5 separate regions of the Homo sapiens genome follow, and all the other regions are reported to be linked to region 3. Evidence: microRNA targets listed by miRTarBase, many of them from high-throughput screens and not tested one by one. Region 3 holds a microRNA gene; each other region holds the end of a gene's coding sequence. Distances are from middle to middle.
What was found. Region 3 holds the annotated microRNA hsa-miR-186-3p (GCCCAAAGGUGAAUUUUUUGGG, at 1,883-1,904, shown strand). A microRNA usually pairs through its seed, bases 2 to 8, with sites in the 3' UTR of a target mRNA and lowers its output. Matches are read on the target gene's strand: a 7mer-m8 pairs with bases 2 to 8, a 7mer-A1 pairs with bases 2 to 7 and ends in A, and an 8mer does both.

Region 1: miRTarBase lists GGA2 as a target of hsa-miR-186-3p. Seed matches in the 3' UTR shown: 7mer-A1 at 1,930-1,936, 7mer-A1 at 1,240-1,246 and 7mer-m8 at 311-317.
Region 2: the mRNA of FAM217B is a reported target of hsa-miR-186-3p. Seed matches in the 3' UTR shown: 7mer-A1 at 3,175-3,181 and 8mer at 2,332-2,339.
Region 4: miRTarBase lists CFAP68 as a target of hsa-miR-186-3p. Seed matches in the 3' UTR shown: 8mer at 868-875, 8mer at 1,545-1,552 and 8mer at 1,872-1,879.
Region 5: the mRNA of MRTO4 is a reported target of hsa-miR-186-3p. Seed matches in the 3' UTR shown: 8mer at 4,084-4,091.

Annotation. Positions count from the first base shown.
Region 1 is chr16:23,463,312-23,468,407 of GRCh38, forward strand. GGA2 (golgi associated, gamma adaptin ear containing, ARF binding protein 2) reads right to left here. Exons shown (of 17, transcript NM_015044.4): 17 at 231-4,389. The coding sequence ends at 4,279. Among named protein-coding and RNA genes, the nearest start is that of COG7, 13 kb to the left of the region's middle.
Region 2 is chr20:59,944,495-59,949,599 of GRCh38, reverse strand. It overlaps FAM217B (family with sequence similarity 217 member B), which reads right to left. Exons shown (of 4, transcript NM_022106.3): 4 at 920-5,105. The coding sequence ends at 4,505. Among named protein-coding and RNA genes, the nearest start is that of FAM217B, 6.7 kb to the right of the region's middle.
Region 3 is chr1:71,064,448-71,069,545 of GRCh38, reverse strand. MIR186 (microRNA 186) reads left to right here and starts at 1,830; the gene lies at 1,830-1,915. ZRANB2 (zinc finger RANBP2-type containing 2) reads left to right here. Exons shown (of 10, transcript NM_203350.3): 8 at 184-270; 9 at 2,612-2,770; 10 at 4,409-5,098. The coding sequence ends at 4,472. It overlaps ZRANB2-AS1 (ZRANB2 antisense RNA 1), which reads right to left. Exons shown (of 3, transcript NR_038420.1): 3 at 2,362-2,780. RefSeq lists a silencer at 994-1,043.
Region 4 is chr11:111,883,361-111,888,465 of GRCh38, forward strand. It overlaps CFAP68 (cilia and flagella associated protein 68), which reads left to right. Exons shown (of 4, transcript NM_022761.3): 4 at 411-2,615. The coding sequence ends at 520. Among named protein-coding and RNA genes, the nearest start is that of CFAP68, 6.4 kb to the left of the region's middle.
Region 5 is chr1:19,258,005-19,263,107 of GRCh38, reverse strand. It overlaps MRTO4 (MRT4 homolog, ribosome maturation factor), which reads right to left. Exons shown (of 8, transcript NM_016183.4): 7 at 4,555-4,631; 8 at 2,980-4,427. The coding sequence ends at 4,278. Among named protein-coding and RNA genes, the nearest start is that of MRTO4, 8.8 kb to the right of the region's middle.

The DNA of each region.
Region 1 (5,096 bases), not on the chromosome of region 3:
AGAGCGGGGTTATGTTTCTAAGTAATTCATATTGATAATGGCATTTTCTCCAAGCTATCTATGGTGTTACATGAAAAGAACAAAACACAGAACAGTATACTATATTTTCTTGAACATGCCTAGAATCCCTCTGAAAAGACAGAGGATGGTAACTGGGTGGGAAGAATTTTCACCTTTCATAATTTTGAATCATGTCAATGTCTTTATCTTAAAAAAGACGACACTGAGCATAAAAAAATAAGGTTTTATTTTCAGCTGATTTTAGAAAGCTCAGAAAAAATTTAAAGAAAATTTATCTATAATTCCCTGACCCAAAGATTACCACTGTCAGATGTGCACACAAACATCTTGGTGCATCGCTTGGCTTTAAAACAAACTGGGGTCAGGACATGGTGGCTCATGCCTGTAATCCCAGCACTTTGGGAGGTCAAGGCAGGAGGACTGCTTGAGCCCAGGAGACCAGCCTGGGTAACACAGAGATCCAGTCTTTACGAAAAACTGCAACATTAGCTGGGCGTGGCAGCATGCACCTGTAGTCCCAGCTACTCCAGAGGCTGAAGCCGGAGGATCGCCTGAACACAGGAATTCAAGGCTGCATTGAGCTACAATCACGCCACTGCACTCCAGCCTGGGCAACAGAGCAAAGCCCTGTCTCAAGAAAACAAACAAACCCACTTTTATACTCTTGACGCTGGGTAAGCATCTTCTATAATGGGTATATTTAAAGGATTTGGGATTAATATTGTAGTAGGCAAGCACTATTTGTATTCTAGAATATTGCCCTTGCTTTCTAGCTTTAACATTTTCTGTCTCAATTTACACTATTTGTACTAGGTAATATTCACTTTTCTTTTGGTTGTCATTTATTGTTTTCAACACTATCTTCATGACCTGTTTGTGTTCAGAGTGGCTCACAGATAAGGAAACATTTTTGCCCAGTCTTAAGTTCATGGAAGATAATAGGAAGAGTAATTAACTGCAGCAAAAGGTTAGGACAAAACATGGCATTATCAGGGCTTGAAAGGACTTTATTGTGGCTGTGGTGAAGCAGGCCCTGGTCTTGGCAGATGATACCAGAAGGGCACTGAGTGCCAGCGTGCAACTTGAATTTGATCCCATAAAGTCAGGCATCAGGAAGCCATTCAGAATTTTTCACCCTGTCAGATGCTCAGATTTGCTAGAGAACTCTGGTAGTGGCAAGAACCAGAGCTGTTACTCAGAATTGGGACAGAGGCATTGTCCCAAAAAAAAAAAAGCCCAAATCAGAGCAGTGGCAATGTAAGTGCAGGGAGGACATGATGTGGGATTATTTAGAAAACAGGCCAAATGACATGCAACTACTCTGCGGATACAGACGAAGCAGGAATCAGGGACCCAATAAGTCTCAGGTGCTTTCAAGTAAGAGCATGTAGGTGGAAAGGGGCAGGACTCTGGGTTCCATTCTAAGTAACTGAGACTGAAGCAACAGTGGAACCTCCAGATACAGATAACCCCTGACAGACTGAAATACGATCTGGCGACAGCAAGGAGGTGGCAGCTTGAGAGAGGTCTACAACCCACCTAATGGTTTAGAGCCACCTGACTACCAGGCCTGTGTGTGGACGGGAAAGTCCTGAGGATTGGACTCTGGAAAACCATCACACTTAAGAGACAGAGGAAAAAGAGCAGTCACGGAGGTAGGTCACGAAATGGGTCAACAGGACCCCCGAAGAGTTCAAGATACTGGAAAGCACTGGCCATGAGTGCCAGATCTCCAGCACACACATCATGAATTTGCTTCTCCCCAGAGGAAAAGAAGCTCCTTCAGGGTGGTGCCTGGCTCAGGGTAGCTGGTCAACAACTAGCTTTTAAAAAAACAGAGACACGGTCTCACTATGTAGCCCAGGCTGGACTTGAAATCCTGGGCTCAAGCGGTCATCCCACTCAGCCTCCCAAAATGCTGGGATTATAGGCGTGAGCCACTGTGCACAGCCAATAACTACTTGTTAAGTGAATGAAGAGGTAGGAGCTGGGCTCTAAGTGGCCACTGGACTTGCTGATTAGAAGGGAGTGATGCCATAAACCACAGCCACTTTCAGGACAGCAGCCTGCCTCCTCTCCTCCTACCCCTATCCTGTCCAACACCTAAGCATAGTAGTACCACTGGGAGTCTGTCTCCTCAAAAGCAAGAATGTTCAGGTACACATGTGTGAGTTCACCTCCTAACTATAGGGGAGAAAGCCTGTCTTTATGTATAAGTCTCATTCACCCATTTTGACCAAAACCCTTCAGAGGGAGATGCTGTCATTATGATGGGTACCTCTTCAAGACTACGCAACAGTAACAGAGCCTATAAAAGCTACACAGAGGCCGGGTGCGGTGGCTCACGCCTGTAATCCCAGCACTCTGGGAGGCCAAGGCAGGCGGATCACCTGAGGTCAGGAGTTCGAGACCAGCCTGGCCAACATGGTGAAATCCTGTCTCTACTAAAAATACAAAAATTAGCTGGGCGTGCTGGCTCACGCCTGTAGTCCCAGCTACTCGAGAGGCTGAGGCACGAGAATCGCTTGAACCTGGTAGGCAGAGATTGCAGTGAGCTGAGATTATACCACCGCACTCCAGCCTGAGTGACAGAGTGAGATATGGCCTCAAAAAACAAAAAAAAGCCACACAGAATACAAGCAAGAAAGTACTTTTAGATTAAAATTCGTCTTATGTGAATTATGGCAAATGAAATCACCCCACTGTTTACCTGTTTTATGAGTTTTTACATTTGCTTAAAATTAGCATACTTGATCTTTTACAGTTCCCATCTCCACCAATTAGTATTGGCAGATTTCCACTATATGTAGAAGTCAAAAGATCAGACTGTAAAAATATCAGATATTGTAATTAAGAGCTCCAAACAAGTCTTGCAGTTTCAAAGGTAGAAACCCACCCAGCCAGTTCAGCTGCTTGGACTTCAAAGCCCTCCGCCTAGCCATCTCAGCCAGGCTCAGGTTCCTTCTCCCACCCATCAGGCCAAGCAGGACTTGTCAAACATACACATTCAAGTTCCTAGCACACAGTAGGTGCTAAGTGGGAATTGATTATAAACTTGAATTCTTCCATCAACAAATATCCACCTCTCCTGTCCAGCTTGCCTCAGATCTTCAGGTTCTCTCTTCTCTGAGGCAGCTAAGCTTCTACATCCTTCATGAAGTTTCCTTTACTTCTCGACAGAAGACAGTTCCCTTTAGGCCTATCATCTCTAAATGCAACTGGCTTTCCATTTTCCACTTACTCAACACTCCACAAAGTACACTTGCTACATGGTATTTATTCAATGACTGTATATTTAGTCACCACCTCAATCACTGCTAAGCTCTCTTCATGTCTATCTGTACCACAGTTTCCCATCTTAGACTGTGACGTCAGCTGGCAAGGGCTGGCTGTTGGCCGATTCATCATGACTGACATGGTGTGTCACAAAGAGCTCCAAGTAAATGCTGTGAAGGAAGAGGATGAGGATGGAGATGAGGATCCTGAGAAGGGCCCAGACTGGCTGCCCAACCCATGGACCTGAGGCCTGAGTAAGGCCTGGGAGCTGCTTTCCCCTCTGCCCAGGAACTCTGTCCAGGGGCGATTCTAAGGCACAGTGGTGAAGGACATGATTGGTCCCCCAAGTGTGGTCCTCAGGTCTCATGGCAGCCACTCGCCTGGGAACAGTGCAACAAGCATTCCATTTAGAAGATCTTCCAGAACACACACAAGAAGCATTGTCTAATGAAAATGGAGACAAGGTCTTTCTTGGAAGAGAGTGCCCAAGTAGATACTCTCTGCCCCAAGACTAACCAGGTCCCTTTTAAGGTCCCTGAGAACAGCAGCCTGGGAGCAACCAAGCCTTTCAAAGGCTGACAAGGCACAGAGTGGATGAATGGAACGAACGATACATGAAAAAAACACTTTGGCTGATAAAACCTCCAACCTGAGGCAGGGACAGTGTCGCTCGCTGACATGCAGAAACATGACTGTAGCAGAGATGATGATGATGAGAAATGCTTCGCATTTCCCACACTGCCGATATCCCAAGCCCTGTGCTACCACCCTCTCCCCGAACACACACACACACACACACACACACACACACACACACACACACACAGAGCATCTGCAGAATAAGTCAGAGGTTGACACCCAGAGCCTGACGTCAGGATAGGACTCTTGGCACTCCGCACTGAAACACCGTGATTAGTCCTGACTAGACAGCAAAAGTAACGCCAGCCTAAGCTTGAAATGAAGGGTCCATCTTGTGAAAAGTTAGGCTGCGCCCAAGACAGCCAGGTCTGGGAAGTCTTTCACTTCTCCTACTTCGCTGAAAGGCTGTCCACCTTGGTTGAATGTCAGCTTGTACCGTAAGCGGATAGGTTCCTGGGACAGAAGAGACAGAAGATGTCAAATCAGTGGAGAGCAACCCAGGAACAGGGGTCAATGTTAAGTCAAGTGAGTGTTTCAAACAATTCTGACACAAAATACCTGGGATACTCTCTTTGGGACTACAAACAAGGGGAAACAGGCACATATCCTGGGAACCCTTCGATAATTCTGCAGTCCTGAAATCCTGAGATGGGCTGCAATTCAGAGACCAGCTAAGGAAGACAGACCTTGTCCTTTCAGAGGACTCCAGAGGATTAGGGAGAGTTCATGTGTCCCTCCCTTGGTCCCCAGCTATGACAATCCATCTGATCTTCCTTCAGTGAGCCCCAAAGACAGACTCCAGCGAGGGATATTCCACATATACCCCTAACACCCAACCAAACCAGAGACTGACTTTCTTTTCTTTTTCTCTTCTCCTTCCTTCCTTTCCTCCTTCCCTCCCTCTCTCTCTCTTTCATCTATCTGTCTGTCTGTCTATCTATCTATCTATTTGATAGAGTCTCGCTCTGTCACCAGGCTGGAGTGCAGTGGTGCGATCTTGGCTCACTGCAACCTCCGCCTCTTGGGTTCAAGCAATTCTCCTGCCTCACTCTCCCGAGTAGCTGAGACTACAGGCGCACGCCACCATGCCCAGCTAATTTTTGTATTTTTAGTAGAGATGGGGTTTCACCATGTTGGCCAGGATGGTCTCGATCGCTTGA
Region 2 (5,105 bases), not on the chromosome of region 3:
AGATTTTTATAAATTGATGATTTATGTTACTTCATTGAGGACGATTCTATGCTGGATACAGTGTTTTATGATGTGAGACTGTTCAATGAATCAAAGAGAATCCTCCACAGCACCTAACTGCATATGATAAACCACTGTATTCTCTGATGGCAGAGTGAAGTTAAATAAAGAACATGCTTTGGGCCTGAAGTCAAAAAGTCTTTTTCTCTCCATTTCTTTTTGATTCCAGTAAAAACCTTTTTATTTGACTAGAAGGTACTCACAGGCCAAATTCACTGCTATCTGAAAGGGTTTGGTCGCCACCTTGTGGATAATAAAACAGCAACAGCCCAAAATAATACATTTCCTGTACAAAAAAAAAAAAAAAAAAGATTTTAAACCTCCAGCGTGGTTAATTTTCAAAACATATCCAAAAACTTACTTTTTAAGCCACTGAACATTACTGCCACAATTTGGTAGACTCAAAAGAATGCACCCTATTGTCAGAGTGAAGTTAGAAAGAAGAGCAAAGGGCTTTTGAGAATGTTTGCAGCTGGAGCTGCTCAAAACTGCTATCTCCTAACCAGGCCACTTCCTTGAAAGAGATGGTACTCGTTTCCGGATATGTACATAAAGGTGCAAGTTCATTACATCACAGGTTACCTTAATTTATGCTTACTGAATTTGCATCCTGCTACCCTAATTAATCCTCAACATGGAGTAGTAAGTGGAAGAGCGACTCAAGAAATGTACTGCAATGCTTCTCTGATATATCCGGTAATGTTAACCTGTGCTTTGGCCACCCATGTCGCTTAGTGTTAAGACAGGAGTTGTAACAGCATTTCATCCTGGGCAATTCCTTTAAATAACCAGGGAGAAAATAAAGGCAAGCTTCAGAAGAGAACTGCATGAAAAGCAAAACAAAACAATACCAGAAAAATCCAGACAATATTTTTCTGCTGTTTAATTGATCTCAAGGAAGGAGAAATTCAAGTCCACAAAAACTTACATCAATTCTGTTTATCACATACAAAACTAAACATACAATATAACAGCAAATAACAAACATGCTGAATATTTTCAAGCCATTTTGAATGGTGTCCTGTACATGTACATAAATAATACATACTGCTTCTGAATTACCTTAAAATACAGTACCACCAAGAGTTATATTTCTATGTAACTACTCCATAAGTGAGCATAAAGGAATGAGGAAGTAGACGATATCCATATCAGATAAAGTAGAAAGTCTTATGTCCTTCTGAAAAGCAACACAGTAGGCCCAAGAACAACTACAAACCATTTTCCTTTTAGCTAGGAGGTATATGGCAAGACCAATGATATTCTCTTCCCCATCCTTTTTGTCACAGGGTATGAAGTCTATCCTATTCAAGTTAGTTACAAGTCTTCAGCCCATTTAGTCATCTAAGAAGTTGAGAAAGTCTAAACCTAAGTAATCACAGCAAATACTGCAAATACTGATATACTTTTAGTTCATTTTTGTACTTTTTTACATTTTTTCCATTAGATAATTCTAAGCCTAAAATATTTTTCTTTTTCTTTTTCTTTTTCTTTTTTTTTTTAAAGAAACTTGGATTGTTTTAATTGGTTTAAATGCAGGGTATATGTAAACAACTCCCCAGAAATGAGAGGCACTTCTCGGAAATACAATAACCCATGTCACTAGACTAGCAAAACACTCAGTGCTTTTGACTTGATGAATTGAATGAGTTCATGATTCAACTTTCTAATGTTGTCTACTTGAAAAATAGCAAGATTCTTATCTGCAGCATTTAATGCATTAAGATGTATTAGATAGGCATATCAGATATCATAAAATTAAAATTGTGCTTATGTTAATTCTGTAATAGACCTAACTTTAAAACACCTCATGTTATTCACTAGGAGCTATGATCTAGTCGTGACAATATTGGTTAAAATAGTCAATCTGAGGCAGAAAGTAAACAAGCAAAGTCACTTTTGCAGGCTTTTTAAACTGTATAACACATGAAATTATGACTATTCCCCAGATTATGCAACCAGCTTCAATTTAAAAAGCTGGGAACAAATATTATGAGGCGTTACTTCTCAATTTCTTTCTTTTTCTTTTTTTTTTGAAACGGAGTTTCCCTCTTGTTGCCCAGGCTGGAGTGCAATGGCACGATCTTGGCTCACCACAACCTCCGCCTCCCGGGTTCAAGAGATTCTCGTCTCAAACTTCCGAGTAGCTGGGATTACAGGCATGCACCACCACACCCGGCTAATTTTGTATTTTTAGTGGAGACAGGGTTTCTCCATGTTGGTCAGGCTGGTCTTGAACTCCCGACCTCAGGTGATCCGCCTGCCTCGGCCTCCCAAAGTGCTGGGATTACAGGCGTGAGCCACCACGCCCAGCCACCTCTAAATTTCTTAATCACGATTGTTTTCAGCTCAGACATACACAAGGCAAGTAGAATTACTAATAAATCACTTTACCCTCAACCATTCAAGGTCTCTAAGAGCATGCACATGGATACATGACGGGGAAAGGCAGCAACTCAGCATAAACACTTTAGTATTAACATAAGGAGTATATATACATATACACATATGTATAGAATATCTTGCTTTTGAATATCTATGGGCCATGAAACTTCATAGAGAGCTGCATAAAAATCTAGCAGAGAAAGGATCATAAGTGAAGTGCCAGCCATGGATAACAGACTAATCTGTGCTCACAAAAAAGGGCAGGCAAGGAACACACAGACATCACTCAGGAACTACAGGAAAACTAAGCGTAGTGCTGTTTTCCAAATATAAAACATATACTAAGTACAAAAGTTATAGTAAATTTGAGGACTACGGAAGTAATACTTACTATATGTACATCTTTTGTTCACATAAAAAGCTTAAAGTAAGATCTTAGCATAAAAGTATGCTTTCTCCAGTAGGATGGTGTGAGAGGGAAAGAATGTAAGAAGGAACTTGTACAAGTCTGAAAATTAAGTCTTGAAAGTAAAAGGCTACCATAAAAAATATTATGTCATTTGGTATGATCAAAATCAGATTTTAAAAGACCTTAAAATATAACCCTTGCACATTGTTTTTTATAATTATATACGTATAATTAGAGCTACATAATCTTGTCTTTATGCTGTTTTTGATATTTTTTCAGACATTTACTGCTGTCTGAAAAGTTTACAAGCTATTATATGTTCCCAAATGAAAAATGCCAAGTTTTTCATTTGCCCCCAAGGTGAAAAAATTGAAACCTCTACGTCAAAAACAAATACAGTAATTGTTTAAAGGGATAAAATCAACTATAATGACATGGGCCGTATTAAAATACACTGCGCAAATATGAACAGAAAACTCACAGCACAACTATAGGAACAAGAAGATGTTATTTAACTGCAGTGAAATAAGAAGGCTTGGAGAGAGTTGGGAAGCCTGAAGACCAGATAAGCGAGTTTAGAATTCATTCAGCAACCTTACTCATATTCCACTCTCCCGCCCCTCACCCCAAGCAAAATAATAAAATCCTGCTCTTGCAAACTGAAACAGATCATTATTTTTGACTAAGGACCACAGGGTGTGGAACCCAAATCAGTAACTTTGTAACTATTACACTGAATGTAGGTCCATGTGTTTTGATCCTTTTACAGGCCCTTCCTTTACAAATTGTAAAGAGTGATTTCCCTGGGGTGCCTCTCTGGAGAAGCTTTACATGCCAGCAATTCCAGAATGTCAAATATTTCATTCTCAGCCCCACCAAACAGCAGTAATCATGCTAAGCCCATTGACTTTGGAAAATTCTGCAAGTTATTTTAACCTCAGTTCGGAGAACTCAAAAGTAGGTTTTACCACCACCTCTAAGTTTAAAATGCCCCTCAAAAAAGAAAAAAAAAACCATGTCAGAGAAAATGTATTAAAGTACTAGATTCCACTGTCTCTCTAGAAAGCAACCAGCTTAGTGAGAAATGACTACTCAAAATACAAACTCACTACTCCCTGACTTGAGGAAGAACTAAAGCTTCTCCTAAGGGTAAAATGAACAGAAATTTTGCTTGAGGAGTTTATAAAAAAGTAAGCGAGGGAGTGGGCAAGAAGGACCTTATTTTAAACATTTAGGATTCCACACCATTTGAAACAGTCTGCACTATTTCATATACTTACGTGCATGTGAAAATGGGGAGGTAACACCACTAGCTGCTCTACACAGACCGGCTACTGTAGCTGAGGTTTCACTGACACTTTCCCTGGAGAGGTGCCATTTTATTCCTTTATATGGCACATATTTTACATAATTTTTATCTAAAGGGCTCTCATTTGCCTAAGACTGACAATACAAAGAAAGGCTTATTGAAAGACACTTCCCTTTGAAAATAACCCCACTCAGGGTAGAAATAAAGGTGGACAAAAATGCCAGTCAACTACTTAAATGTCAGTATTTGTAAAATTCCTTAAAATTCACAGTATTTTGACTTTTGGAAGCGCTCTAACATTGAGGTACCTGCAGGTCTTGGCAATTCAGCATTTTAGATATTTATTTTAGTTTATATGTGTTTTGCTTTACTCCGTTTGTTTTCAGTTTTTTCTCACTCGATACAGTGGCATGACCACAGCTCTCTGCCTTTCCCTTTTTCCTAGGATGTGCATGTGCTTGTGTTTTGGAGGCCTTACAGGAATCTGCTGAGTCCAGAATCACAGCTGCCTGTTTGGGAACTCGAATGTGACCGCTGGTTTCCACCTTAGAGCTGCTTCCACTGCCGGACAGATCCCAGCGCTGCAGCTTCGTACTCTTACTTGATTTCTTTTTCTTTTCTTCTGTCCTCATTTCAAGGGTTTGCCTCTGAGAACAAAACCTGGTACCACCAAGCACATCAATGGGTCTAGGGGAAGTCTCAAATGCATAATGTGATGGGTGGATTTCTTCATGGTGAAAAGCTTTCTTTCGGGAAGGGCCTGACTTTGAAGCCCCTTCCTGGTGAGGTAGTGGCTTGGACAGAGCACTAGCAATTAGCTTACTTCTCCCAGGGCTTTTCAGTGCCCCTGAGGTCCCAGGGGCAGTGGGGGGCCTTGCTTTGCCCCCCTTTGCTTTTTCACACTGTACAGTCTGGACTTGCAGCCACTCAAGCTGAATAAGT
Region 3 (5,098 bases):
TTTAATTACCTTTTGTTACTAAATCTTATCTAATTTAAAATACTATGTTTTGAAAGTATATATCTTGTATAGTTATCTTTTTATATGAAAATGAACTCTAATACATATCTTTCTTTCAGTGTTCATATCACAAAGCTCAATTAAATGGTCCTGGAAAAAAAAAATCGTTCCATGTTGTTCCAGGTCCCGTTCAAGAAGTTCTTCCAGTTCGCAGTCAAGATCTCGTTCCAGTTCCAGAGAACGTTCGAGATCTCGTGGGTCGAAATCAAGGTGAATGAGGTAGCATCTCTCTGTAAAGCAGAGAGAAAAATATTTAAAGGCTGCAGAAGGTGTTGCTGCTTTTTTTCCCCTTATTTTGCTTCTACTTGTCGATTTTATTTTAGCATTAGAAAACTAATGCACTTGCCTCAGCTTAATTTTCTCACCATGAAATGTTTCCATTGCCAGCAGTGTGCCAAGACATTCCCATGATTGAAATCAGGTGGCTATTTTGCAATATGCAGCGTTTATTATTTTGGCACTAAGATGTTATGAAGTAGGAAGATGAAGCCAAGTCTTATCGCCACATCTCTAGTATATTAAGATTATATATGGCCAGGCACAGTGATTCATGCCTATAATCCCAGCACTTTGGGAAGCTGAGGTGGGAGGATCACTTGAGGCCAGGAGTTCAAGGTTGTAGTGAACCTTGATCACAGCACTGTAATCCAGCCTGGGTGACAGAGGAGTGTCTCAAAAAAAAAAAAAATTAATAGTAGTTCAAATAAAATTACATATGTAAATAAAAAGAAAAATTTTCTTCATTATTAAAAGGAAGAAAAATAACCCTGCCTCAAAACAGGTCCTGTTTTGCACGGCAGTTGTTTCAATATTTTCAGAAACAAATTTGCCATTTATATCAGATAAAGTTACTAGAGTACTGTATATACATTTTCCTTTCTAATTTTACACACGCTATTATTTATAGAGCACAAAACACTCAAAACTAAATCAGGAAGTATAGTCGGTTAGTTGAGATAGGATGTGGTCTTAAGTAGTAAACAGTGTTCTAAAGTTTCAGGTTGCATGTAGTCACATCTGTAGAGGGAAACATAATTTGAAAGATGCTCTTGCAGGAAATTTTTCTTTGTTTAGTCAAAATATGCTCTCTTTGTTTTTAAGTTAATTTATTATGACCTAAAGGCATCTAAAAAATAAATAAGAAAATGAAATTCCATATTTGTGGAAATTCATATTGAAGTCTAACTGTGGCTGTTTTGGTAAAAGTATTTGCTGCTTTGAATCAAATTTAGCATTAAAGGGCTGCCACAGTATAATCATGTTAAGGAGAAAAGAATGTTGTGCACACTTGCATTATAAGCCAATAAGAAATAGATAACAAGGCCAGGCTCAGTGGCTCACGCCTGTAATCCCAATACCTTGGGAGGCCAAGGTGGGCGGGCTGCTTGAGCCCAGGAGTTCAAGACCAGCCTGGGCAATATAGTGAGACCTCGTCTACTAAAAATAAAAATTAAAACAACCAGCCAGGCATGGTGGTGTGTTCTTATAGGCTGAGGTGGAAGGATCACTGGAGCCCTGGAGATTAAGGGTGCAGTGAGCCATGCTTATGCTACTGCACCACAGCCTGGGGAACAGAGCAAGATCCTGTCTCAAAAAAAAAAAAAAAAATAGAAGTAGAGAGCAAATTATTTTTTATTGTTACCATTATTTAGTAACAATATTTAAGCGCTTTATAGGTAAAAATCCTTAAGTTCTGGTATTCCCTTTGGGAACCATTATAATTAAGGTTTACAGAACACCCATCATATTCTTCCCAAACATTTTTTCATTGCTTGTAACTTTCCAAAGAATTCTCCTTTTGGGCTTTCTGGTTTTATTTTAAGCCCAAAGGTGAATTTTTTGGGAAGTTTGAGCTAAATTCCTTCAACCAAAATATACAAGTGAAGAAAAAAAATTTGTATTTAAACATTTGCACATTTACTTCTACCTGAAGCATGTGAATGTCAACACTTCATATTTCATAAGTAGTGGGTTTTCATAAAAATAGTATTGTAAATATAAATCATCTTAAAGTTAGTTTTTATTTCTTCTTGAATATTTAGCAGTTAAGTACAGTTACTAGTCTTTTGTTGCTGTGCCATATACCTGGTTTTTCCATAACAGTTTAATGAGTTGAATAATTCCACATGGAATTATGTTTATTTTCCTCAGGAAGTGGTATATAAGATACATATTTTAATCCTCAAATGGAAGGATGTAGTTCCTAAACGTAAAGTCCTGTTAATGCAGTTATCTGCTGATTTTATAATACTATAATATTTGTGTATACTTTGAAAAGCCTTAAAAAAAGTTTAAATTCTATTTTGATATAGTAAGCAGGGTTTTAATTACACATGATAGAATTTTAAAGAGACAAAATTAAAATGTTTAAGTAGAATGTTTTCATGGTTGATCCAGAAGTCTTCTGTTGAATAAGCAGTAAGTATTCTTCCTTATAAAATTTTCATAGTTGTTATAAATCCTGTTTATTTTTGGAGCTATCTGATAACTAAATAATCTTCCTTATTTCTTCTTTTAATGAAATGTTTGATTTGTTTCTCAATCAATGAAGATCCAGCTCCAGGTCCCACAGGGGCTCTTCTTCCCCACGAAAAAGATCTTATTCAAGTTCATCATCTTCTCCTGAGAGGAACAGAAAGAGAAGTCGTTCTAGATCTTCTTCATCTGGTGATCGCAAAAAAAGACGAACAAGATCACGGTCACCCGAAAGGTTTGGGTTTCTGTAGAAATAAGAATGGGTGTTCTTAAGTGTGTTTAATAGATAAAGTAAACTTTCCTAGTCAAGGGTTAGATTTTTATTATCTCTTGTGTTCCGACTTTCTACTTTTCAACTTTGAACTTCAAAAAAACATTACTTTGCTTATCCTTTGTACTTTGATCAGGTTGTTTAGAATTGTAGATCAAACCATTCTTTGATCATTTTATTGTTTAAATTTTTAGTTCCATTTATAATTTTTATAGCCAACTCTCGGTTATTTCTGTCTTTTGAGATTGCAATTCAGAAGCTGTATGTCGAAGTAATTTATGAGTTGACTTTTATACTTAGGCTTCTTTAAATACTAATAGTCAAGAATTCTAGAGCATCTAATAAAAAATTAACTTTCAGATCATTGGGAATCTGTCCTCATTTAAATATGTGTAAATGCATTTCCACAGCAAATTGCTTCATGCCCTTTGTCTATAAGGAAATTATTCCTTGTAGCTAATACATTTTTCATTTTGCAGTCCAAATCTTTTTTGAGAAAGGCCTATATTAGGTTACTTTATCTGTACTGACACTTTTAATATTGGAAGAATGCAACTGTCATCTGTCAGCCTTTTCTGCAACAGGCTAATTACTCAGTTTCATTAATTTTCTCTTTGTTCCCAATTATATAGTCATTTTAATGGCTTTATTTGTAGTCTTTGCAAATTTTTCATATTTTATTAGCTTGTGAAAATAAAGATTATGTAAAGTCTATTAATTGCTGGGTTCAGTGGTAGGATTATCTCATGATTCCTACTTGTACAGAATGATTAGTTTTGCTTCTTCACATTTTGGAGTTTAGATGTTAAGATTTCACACAGTCTTGTTTCTCTGCATTTGTTTCTTTGTAAAAAAAATTACTCTGTTTTTGAGTGGAATTCATTCTGTTGCTTTCTTACCACTTCTGCAAATTTTTATCTTAGCCACATATAATCCCCCTAGTTTGTTGTCATCTAAACTTAATGAACATGTTCTCTATTCCATAAGCCAGGTGATTGGTGAAAACACTAAACAACCCTGAGCCCAGGGCCAACCCCTACGGAACACCACTACTTTACCCAGGTTGATATTGACTTATTCATACTAGCTGCATGAATATAACCCTATAGCAAATTGTACAATCATCTTGTGTGACCTAGATTTCCAAAACTTATTTATGAGTATATTTTCTCATACACAGAAGCCTTGCTGTATCTTTTTTACATAATAGACTTCTTACACTTTCTACACCGTGTCACAGGGATTGGTTTAGTCACACTTCCATTACCAAGTTTATATGCTTTTGTTGTACATTTTCTGTAATTTTACACATTTTTGCAAGGCTTTTCTTTGATATCTTAAATAATTGAGAGGTGGCTATATTTTGAAATGAGATTCTTTTGAAATTGTAGAGAATTTTTTATTGTATTTATATGATAACTGGGCTCATATCCAAAGTCTAAACATCAGATAATTTTATGTGTGTAAGTTCCTATCTCAATTTTTAATTTTTTTGCTAGCATCATGGTACTGAATTTTGTATACTTTCACAGTCTTAAGAATGAATGCTGAGATTTAGCTCTAGCTTACTAGAATGCCTACTCTCTCCATTATGTCTTACAGACGCCACAGGTCATCATCTGGATCATCCCATTCTGGTTCCCGTTCAAGTTCAAAAAAGAAATAATGTATTAAAATTTACATCTTAAAAAAATCCAGTACAGTGCATGAAGCATATTTTTAAAGAAGTTGGTGTCTTACTTGGTCAGAAGTGCTAAATCTGCTAGTAGAGGTGCATGCCTTTCATTGCTTTTCAAAACAATACAGCTGTGTTTATTTGTGAAGTTAAAAGTAAATAGCATTTTAAGCCATAATGTCCCAAAATAGATGTTCTGTCATTCATTATTTACAACCATTTGCTTCATTTAAAACCATTTCAGCTATAACAAAGTACTTTGCTTCCTAATTTAAACCCATTTTTGTCATTTCCAAATACATCCTGTCCATTGGCTAAGACAGGATTACCTAGGCTTGCCTGAACTTTGGGCATGGAAGAAAGACTGGAAACTAGTTGGAAACAACATACTTATGGAAAAGAAAGTCAGCCTTTTTATGCTGTTAACAGATGTCAGAGTGATTCTCACCAAAAAAAGTTAAACTATGTTGTAAGCAGCCAACTGTAAATGTCTATTTTGAAATTCCCTATGCTAAGGGTGCCTTAGAATCATTGTGTCTCTTTTATCCAGCTTTACTTTTTTGCTCCACATTTAATGCAAAAGAATCTTGTGATGTCTACAAGGAGAGAAGTGGGAT
Region 4 (5,105 bases), not on the chromosome of region 3:
AGGCAGATCACTTGAGGTCAGGAGTTTGAGACCAGCCTGGCCAGCGTGGTGAAACCCCATCTCTACTAAAAAAAATACAAAAATTAGCTGGGCTTGGTGGCGCATGCCTGTAGTCCCAGCTACTCAGGAGGCTGAGGCAGGAGAATCACCTGAACCCGAGAGGTGGAGGTTTCAGTGAGCAGAAATCAAGCCACTGCACTCCTGCCTGGGTGACAGAGTGAGACTCTATCTCAAAAAAAAAAAAGAAAAAAAAGGTGAATAACTACATGAATGAGTAAACAGGATTTTTTCTTCAATTTTAACAGGACTTACTGTCTATTCCCTAGAAATAAGAGCAAGATCAGTTACTAAAACTCCTTAGTGTTGACTGTTTTCATTTGTCTTTCCTTCCTTTTTTTTTCTTCCCTCAGGATTTAAGCGAGAGCCTCACTGGTTCCCAGGACATCAACCTGAACTGGATCCTCCCCGATACAAATGCACAGAAAAGTCAACTTACATGAATAGCTATTCAAAGCCTTAAATTGGGCATCACTCAGGATGTGTATAAGATCTTAATATTGACTAGTTTCACATCCAGGTTTCTAAGAAATGATAAGATACTTCACTTTTCCAGAGTGAAATGTAGGAGGGAGCACATTCTAAGTACAGCTAAAAATTTAGCTCACTGTAACACAGTTTCACTCTCTGAATAAATAAAGCAAAAAACACAGTAAATATTCTTTATCCCTTTTTTTGTTGTTGTTTTAACCAAGATTTAAATGTCAAATTTAATACAGCAACTCAGTTCTACATTTGGGGTGTTGTAGAAGGGCCTTAAAAAGAATTATTTTAGGCCAGGCACGGTGGCTCATGCCTGTAATCCCAGCACTTTGGGAGGCCGAGGCAGGTGGATCACGTGAGGTCAGGAGTTCGAGACCAGCCTGACCAACATGGTGAAACACTGTCTCTACTAAAAACACAAAAATTAGCTGAGCATGGTGGCTCACGCCTGTAATCCCAGCTACTCAGGAGGCTGAGGCAGGGGAATCGCTTGAACCTGAGAAGTGGAGGTTGTGGTGAGCTGAGATCATGCCACTGCACTTTAGCCTGGGTGACAGAGCGAGACTCTGTCTCAAAAAAAAAAAAAAAAAAAGAATTATTTCTCTGAAGTCTACAACCACTGTGGTCTTCCCTTCCTTCTGTCGTAGCAAGACCTCAGAATCTAGCATAACTTAGGCTAGGTTTGGCTAGATGCTTTCTGGGTATAAGCCAGAGTCGTATAGTGCAACTTTGCTGTGACCTTAGTGAACATCCCCTCTTGAGGACTACAAAAACAAACGTAACTTTTTAAAATTATTATGGAGAATTTTACGTAAAACAAAAGTAGACAGGCTAGTCTAATGAACTCCCATGTATCATTACCCAGCATCAACTATTTATGACTAATCTTACCTACTTCTACTTTGTCTTATTGAATTAATTTTGGAGCAGATCTTAGAAATAGAATTTAATCTATAAAAATCTTGGTGGGCTGGGTGCGGTGGCTCATGCCTGTAATCCCAGCACTTTGGGAGGCTGAGGTGGGTGGATCACCTGAGGTCAGGAGTCCAAGACCAGCCTGGCCAATGTGGTGAAACTCCATCTCTTCTAAAAATACAAAAATTAGCTGGTCTTGGTGGCGGGCGCCTGTAATCCCAGCTACTTGGGAGGCTGAGGCAGGAGAATTGCTTGAACCCAGGAAGCAGAGGTTGCAGTGAGCTGAGACGGTGCCATTGCTCTCCAGCCTGGGCGACAAGAGCGAAACTCCGTCTCAAAAAAAAAAAAGAAAAGAAAAAGAAAAAAAAAATCTTGGTATACTGGCTGGGCACAGTGGCTCACACCTAATCCCAGCACTTTGGGAGGCTGAGGCAGGAGGATAGCTTGAGGCTGGGAGTTCAAAACCAGCCTGGGCAACATAGCAAGACCCCATCTCTACCAAAAAAAATTTTTTTAAAGATTTCAGTATATTTCTCAAAAAGATAAGGACTGTCAATTGTCTACTCCCCCCCAACAAAGGTCACTAAGGAAACCTGTTGACTAAACAAAGCTCATTAAACCTATTGTAGTGTAGCAAAGGAGACCATCAACTTGACACAGAGTCTTGGTAATGATTCAAAGGGAGGATGTTAGAGTAAGGTATTTATAAGGATTTGAGATAAGGGTCCAACTGGTTTAAAATGAGTCAAAATAGGGAACTAGTAGAGACTGAGAAAGGGTTGTGAATAGCTTAGGTTTGGTAAACTTAGGAAATCAACAGTCTTAATTTTAATATGGTTAAACTGATTAGTATTTCCTATTTTTTTATCTACTGTGTAAGAAGACACTATAATATATGGGCATTACTGAGAGATACTGCCCATATGTTGTCCTCGTAAGCAAGGAGATATTTTTTATCTCCCATATATTACCTCTCAAACCTTTGTTACTTTAGTTTCGAGATATAGATCCAGAATTTATGTTGTTACTCAGTAGTGAGGAAGTTTCTTTTTTTTTTCTAAATGGCTATCAAGTTGTCCCACCATTAGTTATTGAAAAGACCATAATTTTTTCACTCCTATTCAATGCCATTTTTATTGTAAATAAACTATGTACATGTAGGTCTGTTTCTGGGCTACTATGTTCTATTAGTTTAATTGTCATTCCTTGTATTATCTTAGTTATGATGCCTTAATTGCACCATCTTAATTATGATAATTTTATTACATTATTATTATTTTATATCTTAATACCTAATAGATCAAATGCTTTCGTCTTGTTTTCTTCAAGAATATTAGCTATGTTTGAACTTTTGCATTTCCATATAAAATTTAGAATCAGCTTGCTCCATAAAATGACACTGTTAGGATATTGATTGAAACGGTATTGCATCATTAGGTCAGTTTTAGAATTTGAGTTCTCATTAATTCTAATAATTTATTTGTATGTTCTTACAATACAAATATTGTTTTATAGACACATATTTTAAGTTTACATATCGTATGTCTTATTCTATTTCCTATGTATCTAGCACATTTTTAAAATTGAGGTAAAATATACATAACATGGCTGGGCGCAGTGGCTCATGCCTGTACTCCCAACACTTTGGGAGGCCGAGGCTGGCGGATCACTTGAGGTCACGAGTTTGAGAGCAGTCTGGCCAATGTGGTGAAACTTTGTCTCTACTAAAAATACAAAAATTAGCTGGGCGTGGTGGCAGGCACCTGTAATCCCAGCTACTCCAGAGGCTGAGGCAGGAGAATCTCTTGAACCCAGGAGGCAGAGGTTGTAGTGAGTCAGTATCATGCTATTGCACTCCAGCCTGGGCGACAGAGCGAGACTGTCTCAAAAAAAAAAACCTATACATATATATATATATATATATATATATATATATATATATATATATATATGTATGTATATATATACACACACATAACATAAAATTTACCATTTTAGCTTTTTTGTTGTTGTTGTTCATAGAGACAGGGTTTCACCATATTGCCCAGGCTGGACTCAAACTCCTGACTTCAAGCAGTCCACCTGCCTCAGCCTCCCAAAGTGCTGGGATTACAAGCATAAGCCACCATGTGTGGCCCATTATAGCTATTTTTAAGTGTGTAATTTAGTGGCATTAAGTATTTTCACAATGTTGTGCAATGTTCACAATGTTGTGCAACCATCACCACTATCAATTTCCAGAACTTTCTCATCATCCCGAACTAAAACTCTGTACCTATAAAACAATAATGTCTCATTCCCCGACCCCCACTCCCTCAGCTCTTGGTAACCTGTATTCTACTTTCTGTCTCTATGAATTTACCTATTCTAGGTACCTCATTTAAGTGGAATTGTGTAATATTTGTCCTTCTGTGTCTGGCTTATTTTACTTAGCGTAATATTTTCAAGGCTCATGTATGTTATACCATGTATCTTCCTTTTTGTTTTGAGACAGCCTCTGTCACCCAGGTTGGAATGCAGTGGTGTGATCATAGCTCACTGCAACCTCAAACTTCTACACTCCAGGGATCCTCCCACCTCAGCCTCCCAAGTATCTGGGACTACAGGTGCATTCCACCACGCTCAGCTAATTTTTTAAAACAAATTTGGATACAGGGTCTCGTTTTGTTTCCCACGATGGTGTCAAATTCCTGGGTTCAAGCGATCCTCCCACCTCAGCCTCCTCTTCTTTAAGATTGAATAGGCTGGGCACAGCGGCTCACACCTGTAATCCCAAAACTCTGGGAGGCCAAGGCGGGCGGATCGTGAGGTCAAGAGATTGAGACCATCCTGGCCAACATGATGAAACCCTGTCTCTTAAAAAAATACAAAAATTAGCTGGGCATGGTGGTGTGCACCTGTAATCCCAGGTACTCAGGAGGCTGAGGCAGGAGAATCGCTTGAACCTGGGAGGAGGTGGTTGCAGTGAGCCGAGATTGCGCCACTGCACTCCAGCCTGGTGACAGAGCGATACTCTGTCTCAAAAAAAAAAAAAAAGATTGAATAATATTCCATGCATATATATACCACAGTTTGCTTCTCCATTATCTGTTAATGGACACTTGGGTTGTTTTCACCTTTTAGCTATTGTGAAATATGCTGTAATGAACATTGGTATACAAGTATCTGTTTGTGCCCTGCTTTCAATTCTTTGAGGTATACATTCAGAAATGGAATTACTGGATCATACCATAATTTCTATATGTTTTTGTTTTTTTTTTGTTTTTTTTTTTTTGAGACAGAGTCTTACTCTGTCACCCAGGCTGGAGTGCAGTGGCGTGATCTTGGCTTACTGCAACCTCTGTTTCATGGGTTCAAGCGGTTCTTCTGCCTCAGCCACCCAAGTAGCTGGGACTACAGGCACACACCACCAAGCCTCACCAAATTTTGTACTTTTAGTAGAGACAAAGTTTCGCCATGTTGGCCAACTGATCTCAAACTCGTGACTTTAAGTGATCGGCCTGCCTCGGCCTCCCGTAGTGCTGGGATTCCAAGCGTGAGCCACCACGCCTAGCCAATAATTCTAATTTAACAGTTTGAAAATGCCAAACTTTTCCATAATGGCTGTACCATTTTATATTCCTACCAGCAATACACAAGGGTTTCAGTTT
Region 5 (5,103 bases), 52 Mb from region 3:
ATCGAGACCTGCTGGGTTTCATCCCATCTGTTCTTTACAGTGTGCAAAGCTGGCCAGGCCCCTTACTACCTTTATACTTGGCATTTAGCACATGGGGCTGGCATGGGGCATTTCCCTTCCTCACTGAGCAGGTGAGGGCAGGTGGCTCAGCCAAGGCCGCAGAGCCAGGATTGGAGATCAGGACTTGTCATGGGTCCTTGTGTCCCCCAGGGCACACAGGTGTGGTGCTGTAGGTGCTGAGGGGTCCTAAGGTGGCGGGTGTTTAACACCTGGTGAGGTTAAATGCTAGGGTTTTTTCTTCGAAATGGGGTCTCACTCTGTTGTTCAGGATGGAGTGCAGGGGCTCGATCACCACTCCCTGTAGCCTCTACCTCCCAGACTCAAGTGATCTTCCTGCTTCAGCCTCCAGAGCAGCTGAGACTAGAGGCGCACATCACTACGCCCGGCTAATTTTTTTTTTTTTTTTTTGTAGAGACAGGAGGTCTCCCTACGTTATCTTGGCTGACTTCTAACTTCCGGCATCAAGCAATCCTCCCTTCTTGGCCTCCCAAAGGGCTTGGATTACAGGTGTGGCCATCACGCCTGGCCAAATGCAAGGATTCTCGCCCACTGCCTCCCCTCTAGCCACCCAAGAACACGGATGAGGGGCCCAGAAACATGCATGCATTCTGATGCTCAAAAATGTAAGATGTCTACTTAGAAGCCATTAGCCCCTCAGTGCTTCAGGGACCTGGGTGCAGGCAACCGCCCTGAGATGACCCCTAGTACTGACCCCCGTGCAATACCCTCCCCCAACCCAGCTTCTGGAACAAGCACCACTTCAAGGCCATGGCCCTGGTGGAGCAGGTCCTGCAGATTGTGTATATAGCACCAGTGCCCCTGGCATGGCCTTGACTGTCCTGCGATGGACCACTCGCAAGCTGCAGGTAACCCAGCTGTCTCTAGATGCTCAGCTGCTTCTCTCAAATTCTGTGGGGGTGGGGAGACTGGGGAAGCTGCGAGGGCTATGCAGTCATTTGGTCACTTTGACCAAGAGGAGTTAAGTCCTTTTCTTCCTATGAAGGCTCTCCATGGCCCAGTTCTTTTGGGTGGGGTAAACCTGTTCTTACACAAATTACTTAAGCGGCCAGGTAACCAACACTAGTTATTGCGATGGCCATGTTAAGTATGGTCATCTCAGTTTTACATGAGGCAACTGGCTCAGAGGCAATTTCACTTGTGTAGGGTCCCACAGCTACACATGGTAGGGAACGAACGTGGGTTTGACTGAAACTAATGTTTTTCTTTTTGGGGGGACAAGGTCTTCCTCTTGTCACCCAGGCTGGAGTGCAGTGGCTTGATCATGGTTCACTGCAGCCTTGACCTCCAGGGCTCAGGCAATGCTCCGCTTCAGTCTCCCATGTAGCTGGGACCACAGGCATACACCACCATGTGACTAACTTCTGTATTTTTTGTAGAGACAGGGGTCTCACTACATTGCCTGGGCTGATCTTTTTTTTTTTTTTGAGACAGAGTCTAGCTCTGTCACCCAGGCTGAGTGTAGTGCTGTGATCTCGGCTCACTGCAAGCTCCGCCTCCCAGGTTCAAGCCATTCTCCTGCCTCAGCCTCCCGAGTAGCTGGGACTACAGGCGCCCGTCACCATGCCCAGCTAATTTTTTGTATTTTTAGTAGAGACGGGGTTTCACCGTGTTAGCCAGGATGGTCTCCATCTCCTGACCTCGTAATCCGCCTGCCTCGGCCTCCCAAAGGGCTGGGATTACAGGCATGAGCCACCGTGCCCGGCCTGAGCCTGGGCTGATCTTGAGTCTTTGGGCTCAAGCAATCCGCCCACCTCAGCATTCCAAATTGCTAGGATTACAGGTGCAAGCCACTGCATCTGGTCTGAAACCTACATTTTTAACCATTAGCTTTTCCTGGCTCCTTGGCTGCCCACCCTGGAGACAGCCCAACCCTGTGTGTAGTGGCAGGGTTTCCCTCTCCCTGCTGTCCCTAACCCCCTTCTCCAGCTTGGGTATTATATGGTTATGGCTTCCCTTTAGTGAGCACGTTACGTGCCTGGTCTGCAGGCAAAGTGCTTCACACAATTTCTAATTCAGACAAGCGGCCTGAAGTCTGAAGCTGAAAGGCTGGGTGACTGACCTGGGTTTACCCAGCTGCTGAGCAGCAGATGAGTGGCTCTGAAGTCAGCTGTCTAAAGCTGAGACAGCGTGGAGGCAGGGCTTTAAAGCCCAACGGTCATGGCTGTTTGCAAGCAGTAATGCAAGGCATACGTGAATAACCAGAGCCCAGTTAGCGGCGGGGCCATGGCTGGGAGGGGCATGATTAGTCACTGTGCAGCAGAAATGTGTTGAAGTCTAGCTGTCTCCCTTACAGGGCATGCATAGGGACGTGGTCATCCTGGATGGAGCAATTGGAGAAACTGGCAGCAGCAAAGGGACCCTGGACTCGGCTGTCACAGAGGCCGCCGACCAAGCCTGGCACCTGACCATCCCACTACCTCCTCCAGGTCTGGCTAGACCTGGCTCAGGTGCGGAGGGCACCACCTGCCACCCTTCATTCTCTCCCCCTGGCCAGTTTTGGCCTTAAATGGTTGTAGGCTGCTTTCCCCTCTCAGCCCGGTTTGCAGATCCTCCCCTACACTCGTGCAGTCTTCCCAGTCATCCTCACAAGGCGAGAGGGCCGGGCCTGAGCTCTCCTTCAGCACTTCCTGCTGAGGCTGGTGCTTGACCTGGCCTAGGCCTGGGTGAACATGGTGAATTCCTCTTCTGCCCGAAGCCTGCTTCCTGCTGTCCTTCCCAAGGGCGTGGTGAGAAGTGGGCGGGAGTAGGAAGTCTCCAAAGAACAGAGGCACTGAGAGGGTGTCAGAGGCACAATGCCGTTGTGAAGGTCACCCCACACCGTGGGACCCAGCCTGACCTCCCAACAGCAGGGCTGGAGGTGGCCCTCTTCCATGCATGGCAGAAAAAAGAGGGCCACTGTACACCCTGAAGCTGATTTACTCTCATTCAGAACTGCTTTCATGAAATACAAATAGAACAATGTGGGCTGGATGCGGTGGCTCACACCTATAATCCCAGCACTTTGGGAGGCCAAGGTGGGTAGATCGCTTGAGCTCAGGAGTTTGAGACCAGCCTGGGCAACATGGTGAAACCCCATCTCTCCTTAAAATTTTAAAACAGAAAAATCAAAAACAAACAAAAGCAAATAGAACAAGGTGGACAAAAATCTACCATTAGAGTCACCAAGGATAAAACCTCCCAGGATGCCGTGGACACTTTAGACGCTGGCTCTCAACTCTTGCAGTGATGTCACTCTCAGCCCAAGGCTGTCTTCCTGGCATCCATCAGATCCGCAGCCCTGGTTTGGAAGTGTGTGGAGGGCTAGGAAGGATACCTAATTTTCCTCAGCAAATCCCTCTGCCAAGGGGTACCCAGGACTGAAGAGAAACCCCAGCTCTGGTGTGGAGCTGTGCTGTCATGGCAGTGCCAAGGCAGCCAGTGGAAGTTGGCTGACAAGGCAAACTGAGGCAATCCACGCAGAATTCAATGGCCACCCAGGCTGGAGTGCAGTGGCATGATCATGGCTCACTGAGCCTCCAACTCTCAGGCTTAAGCAATTCTCCCACCTCAGCCTCCCAAGCAGTGGGGACCACAGGCAAGTGGCACCACGACTAATTTTTTTTTATTTTTTGTAGAGACGGGATCTTGCTGAATTGCCCAGGCTGGTTTCAAACTTCTGGGCTCACCAAAGGCCTCTTTTCTAAGAAAGAGCCCTCTCCCTCCTCTCCCTCTTGCTGTCTCCAGGAGAGACATCCTGCAAGGTTGTATTCTTTTTTTTTTTTTGGGACAGAGTTTTACTCTGTTGCCCAGGCTGGAGAGCAGTGGTCCAATCTCAACTCACGGCAACCTCCACCTCCCGGGTTCAAGTGATTCTCCTGCCTCAGCCTCCTGAGTAGCTGGGACTACAGGCACATGCCACTATGCCCAACTAGTTTTTTTTTCTATTTTTAGTAGAGACGGGGTTTCACCGTGTTAGCCAGGATGGTCTTAATCTCCCGACCTTATGATCTGCCCACCTCGGCTTCCCAAAGTGCTGGGATTCCAGGCGTGAGCCACCGCGCCCGGCCCACAGTTTTATTCTTTACAGGAGGTCAGTGCCCATCATGTTCCCTGTCTACAGACAAATAAAAAGCTGCTCTCTCCAGAGGGGCGGCAGCAGTCCTGATGGTCCAGTGAGACCCAGAAGCTTCCAGGAGACCTTCAGTCCCGAGTCCCTTTCAGTCATCATCTTCTGAGTCTGACTCTTCTGTGGACTCAGATGCGCTCTCTGGCAAGTCGTCTCCCATCTGCTGGAACCTTCCCGACTGTGAATCCCACATGTATTTGATGGTCACCTTGAATTCAGCCATCTCATACCCAAAAAGCTTCTGCAAGAGACAAAGGGAACAAAGAATCAGGAGGAATGAAGGTATTCAAAGTGCAGGGGGGCATTTTCAGCAGGCAGAGGAAAGCCAGCAACCCCGCCCGCAACAGCCCGCAAGGCGCCAGACTCACCAGGACGCGAGCCTGCTCTGGGGTCAGCACATCGCCCTCCTTGCACACCTCGTAGTCAGACAGCAGAGTCACCACACCTGCAGAAGAGGGTGGCTCTCAGTTACCTCTGGCCCAGAGGCCTGCAGAGCCCTCTCTGCCCTGGTCATGTTGGGAGGAATCCAGTCAGCCACCTGCCCTCCCCACGGCTCCAACACACACTGGGCAGTGGCTGTCTCCCTGAGGTCCCTTTGATTTGCCGCAGCCTCGACCTCCTGGGCTCTAGTGATCCTCTTGCCTCAGCCTCCCATGTAGCTAGGACCACAGGCACACACCACCATGGCTGTCTAATTTTTTGACTTTTTTTTTTTTTAAACAAGCGCAAGGCCCCTGATGGGCCTCAAGGGCTGCATTTTGGCTGTAAGTTACTGTCTGCTTTCACCCCCACTGTGAGGCATGCACTCTTAGCCCCATTTTCTCATGAGAAAATGGAAGCTTGTAGAAATAACTTGCTCAGCTAGAAAGGGATGAGCTTGCAGGCCCGTGCTCTTGGACTCTAGGCTGTGACCTTTT